Homo sapiens: one gene and its partners. The protein of the gene in region 1 interacts with the protein of each later gene in a pairwise test. Each region holds a gene or a part of one and is shown in the gene's direction. Other genes may lie near its edges.

What was found.
Region 2: the proteins of SS18L1 (region 1) and ANKRD22 interact in a two-hybrid assay, tested with the Homo sapiens proteins (one large-scale study listed by BioGRID and IntAct).
Region 3: the proteins of SS18L1 (region 1) and NR1H3 interact in a two-hybrid assay, tested with the Homo sapiens proteins (one large-scale study listed by BioGRID and IntAct).
Region 4: the proteins of SS18L1 (region 1) and TCF7 interact in a two-hybrid assay, tested with the Homo sapiens proteins (one large-scale study listed by BioGRID and IntAct).
Region 5: the proteins of SS18L1 (region 1) and ELF5 interact in a two-hybrid assay, tested with the Homo sapiens proteins (one large-scale study listed by BioGRID and IntAct).

What each region holds. Positions count from the first base shown.
Region 1 is NC_000020.11:62,178,264-62,181,780, forward strand, and holds part of SS18L1 (calcium-responsive transactivator), read left to right. Parts: intron 1-918; coding exon 919-945; 3' UTR 946-3,517. UniProt on the Homo sapiens protein: Transcriptional activator which is required for calcium-dependent dendritic growth and branching in cortical neurons. Recruits CREB-binding protein (CREBBP) to nuclear bodies.
Region 2 is NC_000010.11:88,827,832-88,831,348, reverse strand, and holds part of ANKRD22 (ankyrin repeat domain-containing protein 22), read left to right. Parts: intron 1-2,682; coding exon 2,683-2,790; intron 2,791-3,517.
Region 3 is NC_000011.10:47,256,570-47,260,810, forward strand, and holds the start of NR1H3 (oxysterols receptor LXR-alpha), read left to right. Parts: upstream 1-1,426; 5' UTR 1,427-1,560; exon of another isoform or gene 1,561-2,610; 5' UTR 2,611-2,647; coding exon 2,648-2,690; intron 2,691-3,216; exon of another isoform or gene 3,217-3,221; coding exon 3,222-3,410; intron 3,411-3,839; coding exon 3,840-4,106; intron 4,107-4,241. UniProt on the Homo sapiens protein: Nuclear receptor that exhibits a ligand-dependent transcriptional activation activity.
Region 4 is NC_000005.10:134,142,166-134,145,682, forward strand, and holds part of TCF7 (transcription factor 7), read left to right. Parts: intron 1-19; coding exon 20-139; intron 140-555; coding exon 556-718; intron 719-827; coding exon 828-935; intron 936-1,426; coding exon 1,427-1,475; intron 1,476-2,631; coding exon of another isoform or gene 2,632-2,846; exon of another isoform or gene 2,847-3,517. UniProt on the Homo sapiens protein: Transcriptional activator involved in T-cell lymphocyte differentiation. Necessary for the survival of CD4(+) CD8(+) immature thymocytes. Isoforms lacking the N-terminal CTNNB1 binding domain cannot fulfill this role.
Region 5 is NC_000011.10:34,507,285-34,510,801, reverse strand, and holds part of ELF5 (ETS-related transcription factor Elf-5), read left to right. Parts: intron 1-3,517. UniProt on the Homo sapiens protein: Transcriptionally activator that may play a role in regulating the later stages of keratinocytes terminal differentiation. Isoform 2 binds to DNA sequences containing the consensus nucleotide core sequence GGA[AT].

The sequences.
Region 1 (3,517 bases):
GCCTCCCAAGTAGCTGGGATTACAGGCACGTGCCACTACCACCTGGCTAATTTTTTTTTTTGTATTTTTAGTAGAGATGGGGTTTCACCATGTTGGCCAGGCTGGTCTTGAACTCCTGACCTCAAATGATCCACCCACCTCGGCCTCCCAAAGTGCTGGGATTGCAGGCGTGAGCCACTGTGCCTGGCCGAGGCTAATTTTTTCTCTTTTTTTGTAGAGATGGGGTCTTGCTGTACTGCCCAGGCTGGTCTCAAACTCCTGGGCTCAAGCAGTCCTCCTGCCTCGGCCTCCCAAATTCAGATTTGTTTTTGAAACAGGGTCTCACCCAGACTAGAGTGCAGTGGTGCAATCACGGCTCACTGCAGCCTTGACCTCCTGGGCTCAAGCGATCCTCCCACCTCACCCTCCAAGTATCTGGGACTATTGGCACACGCCACCACACCCAGCTAATATTTGGATTTTTGTAGAGATGGAGTCTGGCCATGTTGCCCAGCCTGGGTCTTTAGATTTTTTTTTATAGATTGAAACCCATCACCCTGGTCGTCCCCGCTCCCATTTTCTTACTGTAGCAGGCTCGGGGGCAGATGGTGTTTGCATTGGCTCCCAGTGGGGCCAGCTTGGAGGAGAGCCTTCCTGCATAGCAGGCCCAGCATAAGGCTCTGATGCCAGGCCTGGCACAGGCCCGGCCGCAGCGATGCCAGTGTGTGACTGAACAAATGAACCTTTGGCCCTGTCTACGTTGTTAGCCCCAGGCTTGGCCAGTGGCTTCTGGAAAGTCGTTCGCTGCCCCGCAGAGATGTGAGCAGAGGTTGTTTGCTTGCTGTTGTCCCTCCTACCCCCTGTCCGGGCTGGGGTGGACGTCTGTCTTCCTTTCACTCATTACTATAGGGGTGTAATCTGTGTCTTGATCTCTTTTAGGGCCAGTATGGAAATTACCAGCAGTAAGGGACACACATTCTGGCTGGAGCCCTTGTGGTAGCGTGTTCATCCAGGGGCCGGATGGGCTGGCGGCAGCTCTGGTGAATTGTGACATGTTGGTTACCTGTTCGCCCAGTGCCACGTCTGCATGTGAAGCGTGCTCATTTCATGCTGGGTATGACGCCGAGCGCACACCACTGGCGTGAGACAGCGCTTGGTGGTGTGATACTTTTGGTGCTGTGTATAGTATTGTATGTCGGTACACGGAGAGGTATCCTTTTTTTGTCCCCCGCCCCCTTCTCAATGTTTCTAGCTAGCTTTGGGGGTCATTTTGTCATCAGAGCATTCTGTGCCCAGGGACAGGACAGATCTCGAGGACACCACAGTCCACCTGTTCCCGTCAACAGACGTTAGGTCTCATTTTCCTCCTCATGCAGTGTTGTAGTGTGGGTTGTCAACTTTTCTTTAACTGGCTACGCCACAGCTGGACACACATGCAGCCCCTGGAGGGCAGCCTCTTCCTGTGCCTCGATGGGGTGGGTGGGAGGGCATCTTCTGTGCGTTGGGTCAGTTTCTGTTACGTAACGAAAAGGATAAACATCTCCCACGGGAGAGGCCACAGATGGCCACTTCCAGAGCTTGCCCATTGCCTGTCTCTCGCCAATTCCGTTTATCCAAAAAGGTACATGTTTTTGTATTAAAAAGTAAACAGGGATCAGTGACTGTATTCCAAATAAATATGAATCCCTAAGGGCCGTGGACAAATTGCCTAACCCAGGGCCAGCGGTATTGCTGAAGGAAAGGGGCAGCTCTCTGGGAAGTGGGCCCTCAGAGATTACTCTGGCTTTGACCCTTGTTTAGCTGATGGTCATTTCTGGGATTGGAATATTTAATAAGCCCAATTCTAAGTTGATAGGTAATTTTAAATATTCAAACCAAATCTTCCCAACAGTTGGCAAGTTGTTTATTTTATATTATTTCTTCCAGGACCTACTTGCTCAGATCTCCAAGCAAGCATTTCTTTTCTTTTAGGGATGTCTGAAAGTCACATCCAGTTACATTACTGTGTTCTTTCTAATGAAAAGTAAAGGTTTTATATAGAGAAACTTGAGTAATTTTTACATTTCTAAGACATTAAATCCCATTTAAATTCTGTGTGAACATTAAAGACAGCACACTTGCAAAAGTATGGTCAAAGGAAAAAAATCCCACATTTCAATTAACAAGTAGCATGGACATTTGATCAACCTTTAGTTGGAATAATAATATTCATATTTGCTATGAATCCTTTTAAAAAAATCTTTGGATAAATGCTGACAGATTTCCAAGAACTACCAAGAAAATACAAGAGATATCCAATGCTTGATATATGAGGCCTAGTAATAACGATATTTCTCTTTAATTGATGTTTTGTTTTAAAAGTTAAAAGTAATTCTTGGCGTGGTGGTTCACGCCTGTAATCCCAGCACTTTGGGAGGCCGAAGCGGGCGGATCACCTGAGGTCGGGAGTTCGAGACCAGCCTGACCAACATGGAGAAACCCCGTCCCTACTAAAAATACAAAATTAGCCAGGTATGGTGGTGCATACCTGTAATCCCAGCTACTCGGGAACCTGAGGCAGGAGAATGGCTTGAACCCAGGAGACAGAGGTTGTGGTGGGGCAAGATCGCACCATTGCACCCGAGCCTAGGCAACAAGAGTGAAATTCCGTCTCAAAAAAATAAATAAATAAATAAATAAATAAGTTAAAATTAATTCTTTATCCAGAGTCGGGTGCTTTAGAATTTATAAGTCACTTATGTGTTTTGCTTGAATTAATTCTGACAGCCCCTATGAGGAAATCTGGAGGCAGGTAACAGTTCCCATTTTAGAGATGAAGAACTGAGGCACAGATTAAAGGACTTGCCTGTGTTGAATACCAGTCCTGTTCTAGGACATTCTCCCCTCTCCTAGGAGACGGATGTCACGCACAAATGGGGAGAGAAGTGTTTATTTTGTAGGCACTAAGGGTTTCTAAAACCCTTAACACTGGTAAGGGCTCAAAAATAAACGTATGTGTTCATATTCGATCACCGAAATGAGAGTTCTTAATTGCTAATTGACAAACGCGTTAGCAATTTCAGTTAGGGAGTCATCTCCCTTGATTGTGTTCTTTTCCTGTCAATTTTCATAGACCTAATTTGCAAACTCAATCGGGGACTAAAATTTCCCACTGAAAATGTTAAACATTTTAGATAACTGTGAAGATAGTTTATTTTTATTCCTTGCCAATCTGGGAATATGCCTTTTTTGTGTGTTTGTGTGTTTTTTTAAGTGCTGTATTAATAATACTTTCTGAAAGAAAAGGACACTTACCCCAAAACTTCAATCTGAAATGTCTTACATTAAGAATATCTTGAATGTTGTGTATATATTTTAAAAAGCACTTTGCAAAATAGTTTGTACATTTATTTCCTAATTTATACATGATTTTTGGTGTTAATATATTTAATGATTAATAACAGAATGTTTATTTAATGTGCTGTCCATTTTTATGTAATATTATGGGGAAAGTGATGCCAGCAGTTCCTTTTCATTATTCTATCTTCTGTCATATGAA
Region 2 (3,517 bases), on another chromosome or scaffold:
CTCATGAGCCAGAGGTTACTTGAAGTCACACAAAAAGGTGTAAAGAATATATTTAAAGATGCAATATTAGCTACTTTGGAGCCTTCAGGACCAAGAAAGAGAAGAATATGTGTGTATTGCTGTGAAAATCCTTGTGGAGCCCTTTCTGAACATCTAGCATTTGCATCGTAGTGAAGGCAATATTTAAATTACACTGAATAAATATTAAGCCATTTTTTTGCAATCATTATGACTGTCCTGTACCCACTTATATGCATTCAAGGCGAGAAAACACTGGAAATCCCCCCTTGCCCCTTCTAAGTCATTTGGAGACTAGCTCATCAGGAGTAACAATGTATTATCAGAAAATTGATCATTACTGGACTTTTTTATTTATGCTTACTATTTTTGGTTTGGTTGCGATTAAAAGCAAGTCATGCCTGTGCTGAATGGAACAGATATGCAACATCGTGGACTATAATAGGATCTCTGTAGATCACTGCTGTGAAACCAGATATGTGGAGTTGCAGTGAGTGGTAGTGCCAGAAGACAGATGTCTGTGGGTTCCTGCGCTCTTTTAAGAGGTGCGCTCGTTAGGAAACTGAGGGAGGAGACGTTAGCCCATGGGCAAGGCTGAGGAGACACTTTTATCTCCGCTTTGCAGAAGAGGAGGGCCTCAGCCAGCCTGCTGGGATTTTCTGGTATCATAAAAACCATGAAAAAGACTTTAGTGGATACATTAGATTAATAGATTTTATCAGTAGAAGTTTTTGGTTTGCATTTTCCACTTTCAAATGTTTCTAATGTTAGCATTTAATATTTTTATTTTCTCCAAATATTAATATTTGTACATTAATAATTTGAACCTGTGATTTCTCATGTCTGAAATCTGTTTATAAATTATTTCCAGAAACACTAAACAAACAAACACCTTAAAAACAAACAAACAAACAAAAAGCTCTGCTGGAGATTCAGAAGCACAAGCCTATGGATTCTATTGATAGCAAATTAAATTAAAACATAAAGATCCTTGTTTTTGTCTGTCAAACTGACCAAGATTAAAAAAGAAAACAAATGTTGATCAGAAAGTTTAAGTTATTATTGTCTTATTAGAACACAATTTGATAGCGCAATATGAAAAGCATTAATACTTTTTATGCCAGGAATTCTATTTTTAGAAATGTAGGCAAAGGACAAATTTGGAAATGTTGACAAAAATTTATGAATGAGCAGGTTCAGGCAATATTATTTATAAAAATGAAAAGTTTAAAACTTGAAACGGGCCATGTGCAGTGGCTCATGTCTGGAATCCCAGCATTTTGGGAGGCCAAGGTGGAAGGATAGTTTGAGACCAGGAGTTCAAGACCTGCCTAGGCAACATAGCAAGACCCCCGCATCTCTACACAAAATAATAATAAGTAAAAAATTATCCAGGTGTGGTGGCACATGTTTGTAGTCCCAGCTACTTTGGAGGCTGAAGTTGAAGGATCGCTTGAGACCAGGAAGTCAAGGCTGCAGTGAGCTAGGATTGTGCCACTGCACTCCCGCCTAGGTGGCAAAGCAAGATCCTGTCTCACAGAAAAACAAAAACAAAAACAAAACCCTCAAAAACCATGAAATGTTCAAAAGGCAGGGCTTAGCTAAATACATCAGAGTAGTTCCACTCAATACTAAGCCATGCAGCCATTACAATCATATGTTTAAAAATATTGAATTGCATGGAAAAATGTACATATTCTAAATATACGTTTCTGAACTGAAAAAAGCAAGATATGATATTGCATATGCAATATCATTCTACATTTCAAAATTCCACATTTATGCATTTAAGAAGACTGGAAGAAAATACAACAAAATGTCAACAGTTAACTCTGGACCATTTAATATAATAATGGGCAATTTAAAATTCTATCGTTATGTTCCTCTCTAGTTTCTAAAATTTTTTTACAGAAAATATAAATGCCTTCATATTAGAAAAACAAAAAGTGTTCTTATTTAGGTACAGTGCCTTGCATAAGTGGAAACTAACCTCCTTTCTTTCTCTTGGGCTCCCTCTCCTCTTACTGATTTGATTGGTATTCCAATTACCACCTTCTGTTTTGCCTTATATTTATTTGTGCATATTTCTGTCCATCTTTGATTATGAGGCCCTAAGAGTTCACATCTCCCACAACCCTTGGAAGCTGACATCTATTACCTGATAAGTATTCACATATTTGAAGAATAAAATTGAGTTATATGCATTCTTCTAGACTATGCACATGAAGGAACATGAAAAACAGCCATGTGGTTAAGAGTTTTCCTATGAACAAACCACAAAATGGATAATCGTACACATGGTAGATGATTAAGGGATAACTATCAATTTTCATAGTAAATTCAGTCCTAAGTTTATATCTCAGTGTATCTTTTTTTCCAAAAACTAAGTGGGTATAAGAATCTGTCTTCTGATGAGCTCTGCTGTGTACATTTCACCTTTGTTGACTCCCAGGAGCCCTTCCCTAGCTTTTCCTTTACACTGGACCGAGTTCTCTGTTCTGCTCCATGGAAAGCCGCATTCAGTAATCAGATGTATCCCACAGGAAAAGATGCCATGGGTACCGGAAAAACAAAAAGCACAAACTAAACTTTTTGAGATGGCCATCTGAATAAATTTTGAATTGAAATGCTTTATTAGTAAAGAATCCTTTTCTTAATTTTTAGAAAGAGAGAACCTGCTTGCATTATGCTGTGAAGAAAAAATTTACCTTCATTGATTATCTACTAATTATCCTCTTAATGCCTGTTCTGCTTATTGGGTATTTCCTCATGGTGAGTACAACACTTGTAGAGCAAAGGGCAAATGTGGAGATCGATGGTGTGACTCATTGACTCTTGCCAGGCCAGTGAGATGTTGAAAAGAAATAAAAACAAAAAAAGCCTTTGGTTTGTATTCTGTAATTGACATGTTCAACATACATCCAATGCTATAATTGAAGTACAGCAAGAAGAAAGCTAGCAAAAATAGTTAATCAATGGTAACATAATCCATGCAATGTTGATTTAGAAAAATAATTTAACCTTAACTAAGACTTTTCTGAAGGGAGCAAAAAAATTCTGAATATTAAAAAACACCCCTTCTAATATTTTTTTCTCCTTTTTTTAAAAGAGGAGTTTGTGTTTTTGGATTTATCTTTCTGACTTACTGATTTTTAAGTACTCCTCTGGTGGTGTGTTGAAAAACAGATCCTAAAAGTTTGCATCCAGAAGCTGACACACACAGAAGATACTTGTTGAGAATTTAAGCCCATTTTCACCTTGATGAATTTCTTCATGCTTGGATGAATCTTGGCAGACAGCAATTTTCTTGAATAAAGAAAGATGTAGTTGGTATAGAGATGCAGTCATATGAGGAGTAGAAGATGAAGCTTGAGATGGTTTTTGGTTTTTTTTCCCAATAGGGTAACAGATCTGCACTGACTTACTCACTTTTATCCATCTAGTTTCCTTTGTGCCCAGTTCCACTTCTCAGACATGACTCAAGAGATGCATAATTTAC
Region 3 (4,241 bases), on another chromosome or scaffold:
GGAAGGCTGAGGTGGGAGGATGGCTTGAGCCCAGGAGTGTGAAGCCAGCCTGGGCAACATAGTGAGACCCTACCCCAAAAAAGGTAAAAAAAAAAAAAAAAAGGAATAATAAAAAAAATTGACTAGGGCTAATAAGTACGGGATAGACGAGAATAATATTTCTTTTTTTTTTTTTTTTGGGGACAGAGTCTCGCTCTGTCACTCAGGCAGGAGTGCAGTGGCGCAATCTCGGCTCACTGCAAGCTCTGCCTCCCGGGTTCACGCCATTCTTCTGTCTCAGCCTCCCGAGTAGCTGGAACTACAGGCGCCTGCCACCATGCCCGGCTAATTTTTTGTATTTTTAGGAGAGACGGGGTTTCACCGTGTTAGCCAGGATGGTCTCGATCTCCTGACCTCGTGATCCGCCTGCCTCGGCCTCCCAAAGTGCTGGGATTACAGGCGTGAGCCACCGCGCCCGGCCGAGAATATATTATATTTTTCTTGTTATTCATTCAACAAATAGGAACACAGTACCTACTCTGTTGCCACATCTATGCCAGCCCTGTTTCAGGGGTGTTGGGGGAGATGAAATCAATAAAATATGATGTCTACTTTCAGGGATGGATTTCATGCCCCAGGCAGCAGAGTAGGAAGAATGACTATAGTCTCAGTAGCTGCTGGTTGGAGCCTGCCATCACTTCAGATGGGGTTGTTCCCCAGAAGAGGCAACCCGCATACCTTCCCAGGTCCATCCTGGGCTGCCACCTGAGTTGCCTGTCTTCCTTCTGCCACCTCCACCCCTATCCCAGGCCTGCCACTGCTCATAGCAGATTTCCTATCAAAGGCTCTCCTGGCCTCCTCTCTTATCTGTGGCCCCCGCAGGGCACCCACTTTCAGAAACTCCCTGGAAGGCCCAGCACCTGCCTCTCTCCACCCCTGGATTTCTACCAGCTTGGCTGAGGCCTGGGGCTAGTGGGGAGAGCTTCTTGGCCTCTTCCCAGAGGCAAGGGAGGAGGAGGGAGGCTGGGAAAGCCGCTGGGGCTCAGTGTCGCAATTCCGGGCCGTGCTGGGACCTTTGCTCCACGAGGTGCCTATGGAGGGGAGGGAACACGATTCTGGAGGCTGCTGGGATTGGGGTGGGGGTTCCTGGGAGGCAGTCCTTTTGCAAGAGCTGCTAAGAGCGCTGGGTAAGGAGAGGAAGGGGAGAGACATGGAACTTGGCTGGTCTGCAGGGAAATGCCACTGTTTTGGCCGGGAGTAGGGGGCGGGAGTGGCGGGAGAGGGGGTGGCCGGCTGGGGAGGAGCCAGCCTGGTGGAGAAGCTGCCCTGTGGGCGGGGGTGAGGAGGGGAGGGCTGTGGTCACCAGGCAGGAAGGAGGGGTGGCCTGACCCCTCGGCAGTCCCTCCCCTCAGCCTTTCCCCAAATTGCTACTTCTCTGGGGCTCCAGGTCCTGCTTGTGCTCAGCTCCAGCTCACTGGCTGGCCACCGAGACTTCTGGACAGGAAACTGCACCATCCTCTTCTCCCAGCAAGGGGGCTCCAGAGACTGCCCACCCAGGAAGTCTGGTGGCCTGGGGATTTGGTGGGTCTGCTCCTTAGCAGTGGCCTGGGGCTCTGTGTGTGTATCTGGGGTGGGGTCGGGGAATGTCCTAAGGATCTGAGAAGGGGGTTTCTGGGGAGAAGTGAGGGGTGATGGTGATGGAAGCTTGGGACAGGAGCAGGACTCTGGGTCCCAGAATAACTCATGAGGGGCTCAGGGGAGGAGGTCCTCTATGTGAATTGGGGAGATTCTTGGAGACAGGTTTGTGCTGGGACCCTGGAAAGTGGCACGAGCGAGGTTCTCTAATAAGCAGCGTGTTTCACTGGGTGGAGTGAGCTGTCCTCAGTGTTGGAGTGAGGGGGAAGGGGCCCAAGAGAAGCAGGGCAGATGCACCCAAACATTCCCTGCTGGCCTGGAGGGGACTTTGGGGGAGAAAAGCCGGCACGGTGGCTGGGAGCCCAGACTTTGGAGTCAGAGGAGGGTTGGAGTCTTGACTCTACCGCCGCCTAACTGTGTGACCATAGTTACTTAATCTCTTTGAACCTCAGTTTGCTTATCTGTAAAATGAGTTTAAGAATAGTCCTGAGCCAGGAGCAGTAGCGTGCGCCCATAATCTCAGATACTCAGGAAGCTGAAACCTGATTGCTTCAGCCCAGTAGTTTGAGGCGATAGTGTCCTATTATTGCACCTGTGAATAGCACTGAGTTCCAGCCTGGGCAACATAGAGAGACCCCATCTCAAAAAAAAAATTAATAGTTTTGACCTCAGAGGGATATTATGAGGAAAGCACATAAAGCCTTATAACAGGCTGGGCGCAGTGGCTTACTCCAATAATCCCCACACTTTGGGAGGCCCAGGTGAGAGGATCACTTGAGCCCAGGAATTCCTAGACTAGCCTGGGCAAAATAGGGAGAACCTGTCTCTAAAAAACATAATAGTAATATAATAAAGCCTTAGTACAGGCTAATATATGGCAAGTAAATGTTAGCTGATATTGTTGATATTGATAAAAGGGAGGATCAGGTGGAGAAGGGAGCTGAGGCCAGAAAGGAGCCCAGTTCTAGAAGAGTATAATCTGGGTCCTTCCTGCAGGACAGTGCCTTGGTAATGACCAGGGCTCCAGGAAGAGATGTCCTTGTGGCTGGGGGCCCCTGTGCCTGACATTCCTCCTGGTAAGCTTCATTCCATCCCTCTCCCCTGAGCCCAGACCGCAGGCTCCACGCCTCCTGTAGGAATCAGCCTCCTTCATTACCTGCCTTCTTCCTTCCTCCAGAGAGCAGTCCAGAGTCATTCTTAGTCGTGCTTGCCTCCCGCCCAGATCACCTCTCCCCTGGTTCCAGTGCCTGGCCCTTGCAGGCACCCGCCCAGTCCTCCCCAGTCTGGATTTGCTGCTAGAGAGTTGGCCAGCTGAGTGCTTACCCTGCTCTGGCTTTGAAGAGTTTTATCTGATCTCTGAAATGCATACACTCCAGCCCCCCAAAGGGACAAGGATTAACATCTTCATTTAAGGTCCTGAGATGTAAGAAACTACAAGTGACTAGTCCTAGCTAGAGCCCACACAGACTCTAGGGTCCCAAAGCCTGAGCTGGGACTTTGCTGCCCTCTAAGGGTGGGGATAAGTTTGCAGTTTCCCAGCTAGGACGCTGGGCCGTGGAGCCGGGATGGGGCCTGAGACCCCCTTGTGCCTCTCTTTTGGAGCTCAGACTCTGCGGTGGAGCTGTGGAAGCCAGGCGCACAGGATGCAAGCAGCCAGGCCCAGGGAGGCAGCAGCTGCATCCTCAGAGAGGAAGCCAGGATGCCCCACTCTGCTGGGGGTACTGCAGGGGTGGGGCTGGAGGCTGCAGAGCCCACAGCCCTGCTCACCAGGGCAGAGCCCCCTTCAGAACCCACAGGTGAGGAGCTTCTGGGTTTGGAGGAGGTAGGGGTCCAGATTCCAGGTCCTGGATCTGGAAGAGGTTCCTTGGGGGTTTTTACTTTATATATAATCTCATGGTTAAGTTCAGAGGCTTTAGAGCTAACTAAATCTGACTGATCTAAGTGTGAATTTTGTCTCTAGGCCTTTCTGAGCCTCACTTTCCTTGTTTATAAAATGGAAATAAAAATTATGGTTGTCATAAGGATCAGTGCATATAAAAGGCTCATACAGTACCTAGAACATAATGGCACTTGGCAAATGAGGGCTACTCTTCTCATAAAAGAGAGACTGGAGTTTGTATAATGAAGGGAATGAAGGTCACTGAGTGCCCAGGGCAGTGGCTGAGTCAGGGAGAACATGATGTTTTTCCTCGGGGGAGAGCGTTGAAGCACTTTCCTGTATCCAGAGATCCGTCCACAAAAGCGGAAAAAGGGGCCAGCCCCCAAAATGCTGGGGAACGAGCTATGCAGCGTGTGTGGGGACAAGGCCTCGGGCTTCCACTACAATGTTCTGAGCTGCGAGGGCTGCAAGGGATTCTTCCGCCGCAGCGTCATCAAGGGAGCGCACTACATCTGCCACAGTGGCGGCCACTGCCCCATGGACACCTACATGCGTCGCAAGTGCCAGGAGTGTCGGCTTCGCAAATGCCGTCAGGCTGGCATGCGGGAGGAGTGTGAGTTTCTGGGGCTGGAGTGGGGAAGAGGCTGAGGGGAAAGAGGGGGCCAGGGTGTGACCCAAAACAGGTGCCTGAACTTGCAGGGGCTAACTGATCCCTAAGTATGGATCCCAGTATCTTTCTTGACCGGGC
Region 4 (3,517 bases), on another chromosome or scaffold:
ACTTTCTTCCTGCCTCCAGGTTCACCCACCCATCCTTGATGCTAGGTTCTGGTGTACCTGGTCACCCAGCAGCCATCCCCCACCCGGCCATTGTGCCCCCCTCAGGGAAGCAGGAGCTGCAGCCCTTCGACCGCAACCTGTGAGTGAAAAGACAATGATGGCAGGGGGTGTGTCAGTCAGGATACACATGCCTCCCCACCAGGCCTGAGGACTGCCACGAGGTCCCTGCCTAAGCTGTTTCGTGCCTCTGGCTATGTTTTTGATCCTCAGAAGTAGGAGGGGGTGGGTGGGATGGGGAACAAGGATTTTTCTGAGCCAACAGAGGAGGGGCTCAGAAGTCCTTAACACATGCTTTTCCCACTTGTCTGTAGTGTTCCTATAAGGAACAGTTACTTAGCTGTCTGCTCACCCATTTGGGGGCAGCTAGGAAAGATTCCACTTAGAAAACTCTGGTATCATACACTTAGGCACACTCTAGGCCCACGCTAGAGGAGGAGGCTGCAATTAGGTGGGCACTCGGGGGGCTCCTGAACAATCTGGATTTGTGCCCCTCAGGAAGACACAAGCAGAGTCCAAGGCAGAGAAGGAGGCCAAGAAGCCAACCATCAAGAAGCCCCTCAATGCCTTCATGCTGTACATGAAGGAGATGAGAGCCAAGGTCATTGCAGAGTGCACACTTAAGGAGAGCGCTGCCATCAACCAGATCCTGGGCCGCAGGGTGAGACCATGGGCAGGTGGGCTGGCAGGGATGCTCCCCGACCATCTTCAGCCTGGTGCAGCCTGCTGACTCCCTGATGCACCCCACCTGCCCCTCTTCCCTGTTGCAGTGGCACGCGCTGTCGCGAGAAGAGCAGGCCAAGTACTATGAGCTGGCCCGCAAGGAGAGGCAGCTGCACATGCAGCTATACCCAGGCTGGTCAGCGCGGGACAACTACGTGAGTGCCTAGTGACACACAGCAGGGGTGGGCAGGGGACCCTTTGAGATACCATGCCCCAGGCCACAATCTCAGTAAGGAACGCAGAACTACTGTCCTGAAGGCACCGATGAGGAAGGGCACGGAGGGTCCAAGGCCTCCCATGGCTGCCTCAGAAGAGGACAAGCCCACATCCTATTCTCCACTCCAGAATATGCTCACACATGAGCTGTTACCCAACATTTGATTGGGCCACATGGGCAGAAGGGGAGAAAGGGGTCTGGAAGTCACCTCCTTCCATTCAAACTGGAGACCAGATTGGGGTGAGGGAAGAGCTTCTAAATGCACTCCATAGCAGCCTAGCAAGACCAGCAATCAAGAAACACCAGCACCCCAAGGTAGGAGGGGCCTGTACGCCCAGAATCCCAGGGTTACCCAAGCTAGGCAGCAGGCTGTGGGTATCCCAATGTCTGCCTCCCAGATCTGAGCATCCCTCCTTTTGTTCCCTGCAGGGGAAGAAGAAGAGGCGGTCGAGGGAAAAGCACCAAGAATCCACCACAGGTGAGACCTTCTCTCAGCAGCAGTGGAGGCTCCTCTCCATGTCCCCATTTCAAGAGCAGCCCTCCTCTGACCCAAAGGGAGGAACGCGGTACCCAGCTAGGAGCCTTCAGGGCCTGGGGCCTATGAAAACAAGGCCTGCATCTCACAAGTCAAATTCCCATGCAAGAAACAGCTATATTATACTAAGTCCCAGGGAAACCCAGCAGAACTGGCTTCTGCTGGGTAGAATTGGAGTAGATGGTGCGTTCCTCTGCCTTGCACCCACTACCTTTGCTAGCTCCACTCACCAGAGAAACCAGCAAAGAACTGACTGTATGGTTTGATGCTTAGCCCAAACAATGTCCTGGCTAGTTCTGCTGAGACTGGGAGAGGCTGAGCTAGGCCCCATGACTAGGCCCAGTAGACACACAGCCTACTGGCTGGAGCCTGGCAATTTATCACCCCCACTTCAACATTTTTCATGGCAGTGCAAAGTGCTCTATGTAGAGAAGCCCACACCCTGCTGCAGGCCTCCTTCCTAAGGGTGAATTCCTGCCTCTCTGGTAACTGAGACTCCACATCCCTGACCACCTCAGCCGTGCTGTCCCCACACAGGGAAGCTGGAGGCTAGGACTGGGACAGAGCAGGGCAGAGTTCCTAGCCCTTTTTCCAAGGCAAAGAATAGGCCCTTCCTTCCATCTGCAAGTGTGTAGAACAGCATAAGGTATAGCCTTCAGCCTTATCCCTTGAAGGAATGTAGGTCAAGAATGAAGAAAAACTGGATAAAATGGGTAGGGAGTTGGGGAGGAGGTGGGTGGCCCTAGGGCATAAAAGGCTGGATCTCCATGGTCTTCCTTGGGCCCCTCTGCAGCCTCCATGCTGCAAGGGCCCCACAAGCCACAGAGATGAGCCAGATTGACAGGACTCCCTCCCTCCCATTCTTCCCACTGCCTCTACTGCGTACCTGGGTGCCCACCTTTCCTGATATCTTGGCTCTGGGCTCTTGGGCTCCCACTGGGGCTGGCTGTGCCATGGAGAGGCCCACTCTGCCTATGGGGGCTGTAGGGTGTCTATAACTGGCTAACACTGATGTTACCTCTTCTTTCTGGGCCCTGCTCTGCCCCGCTGCCTGCTCGCCCTCTGCCCTGCTCTACCCCTCTGGCATGGCTGTGAGCAGACCCTGGCTCGCCTAAGAAATGCCGTGCTCGCTTTGGCCTCAACCAGCAGACGGATTGGTGTGGTCCGTGCAGGTGGGTTTGTCCCCACCATCGTTCTCCCTTTGCTTTAAGCTGCTTCCCTGACTCTGCACATGTTCCACTGGGCCTGCAGCCCACTCCTTTGGCCCCTCAGCCCACTAGCATACTCAGCAGATTGGGAGCCCAGGCCTCCTGAGAATAGTAGTAAATACTGAACACAGCGCGTGGAGAAGACCACTTGGGTCTAAGTGCAGGAGGATTGGAGAGAAAGACACAGAATGTTCCAGAAAGGAAGGACAGACTCAAGAAGGCAGCTCTGATGCCAGTGGGCCTAGCAGGTCCTCAGCAAACAGACAGCTCAGCCACCACTAAGGGGGCCTGGAGCCCATTCTACCAGGCCTCAAAGTCATTATGGCCCATGGGCTCCCTCACTTCCTCTTCAAGATGGGATCCCTGCCTGTACCATCCTGAGCCCTTAATCTGAAAAAGCAAGGTGACAACAACACAGAACCATCTGGTTGCCAGGTAGCCTTATGACTTGCTATCTTGTACCTACTGATACCAAAGGGCTGGAGAGGCTGGGGGAGAGGACCCAGGGGGTACCCTGGGCTGTCTGAGGGAAAGGGCTCATGTGTTTCACCATACAACAGAGAAATACTTGTGGGTGTGACAAGGTTTACCCAACAAGTGGTTAAAGTTTCCTCAGTCAGTTTCAGGCCAGGCCTGGCAGGGCTAAGATAGAGGGTACTCCAGGCAGTAAGGCCACTGGCTCTAAGGAACACTTGTCCAGCCTCTCAGTGTACCCACCACACTCCCTGTCCAAGGGCAAGGAGGAGTTTGGGGTGTGTCTGTGTATCCACATACATA
Region 5 (3,517 bases), on another chromosome or scaffold:
GGTCATTTTTTCTTAATCATCTCCCCACCAGAAATGTGAGTACCAGAGATAAACTATACATCTACTGTAGACCTTTGGAGCATGATAAAACACTGTAATTAATAACTCAGTTTTTTGATCCCCAAGAACTCATCTTTGTTCCCTAAAGAGGGGGGCAATATCACCCCCCTTGAGCAGGCCTGGCCTAACCTCAGGCCTGTGTTCACATATCCCTGGGCCTCAGTGTTACTTCTGAGAAAGGGGGCTCTGGACATCTGCCTTTTCACACCTATCCTGCTCTACCTCCACTAAAGAAGTCCTTAAGAGCTAAAATGTTCAATTATTGCAAGGACCTTAGAGGGCCTAGAGAAGAGAGGCTACTGAATACAAAGCAGCCATTATTCTTGAACTCTCACACCTACTGCATGCTGGCTAAGTAGCCAAGGTCTTTTGTGGAGAGCCCAGAGTTAATAACACCCACTCCTGCTGTAACAGGAAAAAAAAAAAAAAACACCTTTTTCTGCTTTTATAAAAGATATTTTTTCCAAAAGCAAGAAATAATTACAGAAGAAAAATAGCATGCTGTACACCTGAGAAGGCCCTTTACAAAAACTTAATGGATATAATTTGCCTTAGAAGGAATTACCAAAGGGAATCAGATACAGCATTGTGTATAGCACTAGAGAGATTACAGATCAAGTGAGTAGGCCGGTATAAAGAGGAGAAAGAATAACAATATTAAAAGAGGTAAAAATACTATTGATCAAAAAATATTTCTAGTTTTTATATAATGCCATTCAATTTACCAAATGACCTTTTTTTTTGTTAATACCCAATGACTTTTGAGAGCAATTAGTGAGGCATAGATGAGGAAGATCTCATTCCCACTGTCGTGTTTTGTATTTGATGGATTCCTTATTTGACACTGAAGACCTGGGGACTGTTTTCTGTTTTCTTCCGTGTGGAATTCACCTCTCCTTTCTCCCAACCCAAAGAAGGTCATATCACAGGCCTGCCATCCTCTTCTTTAGTTTTCTGAGCCTTCTGGCCCAGAAGAAAAGGGATATATTTGTCTTCAGCCCTCACTTAAAGGAACTTTTCTGAAGTCCAGTCCAGAAAGCAGAAGTGGCTTTCAGCTCCTGAGGCCCTTCCCTTCCTCATAACCTCTCACCCCATCCCTCAGCATCCTACCCCCTCCCTGCCCCCCTCACTCAGGATATAAAACCAGCCAATCCGTGGGAAAATCACAGCCCAAACCCAGGCAGCCTTGACATCTGTTTGATTGGGCTCCCAGGAGGAGATCCATGCCCACGATAATCTGCAGAGCACATTAACCCTCTCCAGGCATCAGCAAAGAGACTTCCCAGCAGAGTCTGGAAACTCTTGGGTGATGGCCCAGAAAAGGTGCCTAAGTGTCAGAATTCAAACTCGGTTATATATTTACATCTGGAGAGGAGTTCTCATGCACGTTTTTGTTGTTGTTGTTGTTGTTTTCGAGACAGAGTCTCACTCTGTCACCCAGGCTGGAGTGCAGTGGCACGATCTCAGCTCACTGCAACCTCTGCCTCCTGGGTTCGTGATTCTCATGCCTCAACCTCCTGAGTAGCTGGGATTACAGGTGTGCACCACCATGCCCAGCTAATTGTTGTGTTTTTAGTGGAGACGGGGTTTCGCCATGTTGTCCAGGCTGGTCTCGAACTCCTGACCTCAAGCGATCTGCCCACCTTGGCCTTCCAAAGTGCTGGGATTACAGGCATGAACCACCGCACCCGGCGTCTCATGCACATTTGATGGTGATGATGATGGTGGTTGGAGATTTTCAAGCATCTGCAAAGAATTGACCTTTGGTTTCAGAATCACACAATCCTGCCCCTCTTAGTACTGAGGTTTGATTTGCTATATAAGTGTGCCTTGGGGCTCAATTGTGTTTTCAGAAAGAGAAGCAGATGGGCTGAGAGTCAGAAAACTAAGGACCTCCCTGCCACTTAACTCTGGCATCCACTGGCTATGTGACCTTGAGCTAGTTACACAAATTCCCTGAGTCTCAACTTCCTCAACTGTAAAATGGTGGAGGCGAGGAGGGAAATTGGACTAACTCAGTATCTTCCAACACGTGGTACTCACATCAACTGGCAACATGCCAGATGAATCTGGTTAGGGGTTGCAAACTTTTTCTTAAAGGGCCAGGTATTTTAGGATTAGCAGGCCAAAAGGCAAAATCAAGGATATGATGTAAATATTTATATAACCACTTAAAATGTAACCACTTAAAAATGTAAAGTTTTTTTTATTTTTTATTTTTTATTTTTTATTTTTTTGTGAGACATAGTCTTGCTCTGTCGCCCAGGCTGGAGTGCAGTGGCACAATCTCGGTTCACTGCAACCTCTGCCTCCCAGGTTCAAGCGATTCTCCTGTCTCACTCTCCCGAGTAGCTGGGATTGCAGGCATGCACCAACACACCCAGCTAATGTTTGTATTTTTAGTAGAGACGGGGGTTTCACCATGTTGACCAGGCTGGTCTTGAACTCCTGACCTCAAGTGACCCACCCGCCTCGGCCTCCCAAAGTGCTGGGATTACAGGTGTAAACCACTGCGCCCAGCAGTAAAATTATTTTTAACTGCAGGCTTTACAAAAATAGGTGAGGGACTGCATTTTGCCTATAGGATGTAGTTTGCTAACCCCTGATTTAGGTGGCGCATGAACCATTTTTATTCAAATGCTTAAATATTTATTTTTATGTATGTTTAAAAAATCCTGACTTTCCATTTATATTGCTAATATAAAGTTTTCCTTTTAATTAGCATATTTATGTTAAAACAAAAAGGGAGTTGATGATTTTTTTAAGTATTTTAAGTAAATAATAGTGCTCGTAGTATATGGATTGAGTGAAATTATCACAGTCGTAGGCAAATGACTGAAGTTTAGGAAACACTGGACTAGATGAAGAATTCACTCCTGCCAATCTTAAAATTCCATGTGTTTAATATCCCAAGACACTTACCAGTGGTGTGATCTTGAGCAGCTATGTTCCCTTTGCAAAACGAGGAAAGAACTACTCTATGTCAACATTATTTCAAGAATCAGAAAAAAGAATTCGGGTGAACAGATTGTTTTAATCCACCAAACACAGATTATTATTTTTTCTGAATTGCGGGGAGATGGGATTCAGTAGAGAGTGGCATGTGGGAACATGGGAAGCAGCAAAGTTGAGACCAGCACAGGCAAGAATGTGTGCAAGCGGGGGCCCTAGGCCTGTTCTTTTCTGCCTTCCTTCCAGCCTCAACCACACACCCTGCCCCAGAGCTCCTTGCCGCCACCAAAGTGTGTGGGGACTGGAGCACAGCAATTAGAATGGGCTTTTTAAACAGACACACCTGAGCCACCACCCAGCTTCGCTGGCTTTGCATGTATTACCCGGAATCTCAGAGCCTCCATCCCTCACCTATGAAATGGAACTGCTGCCAGTACCTATCTCAGAGTGGTTGTTCTGAGCAGACCAGGAAGAATATAGCTAAAGTGCTAAAGTACTCAGCATG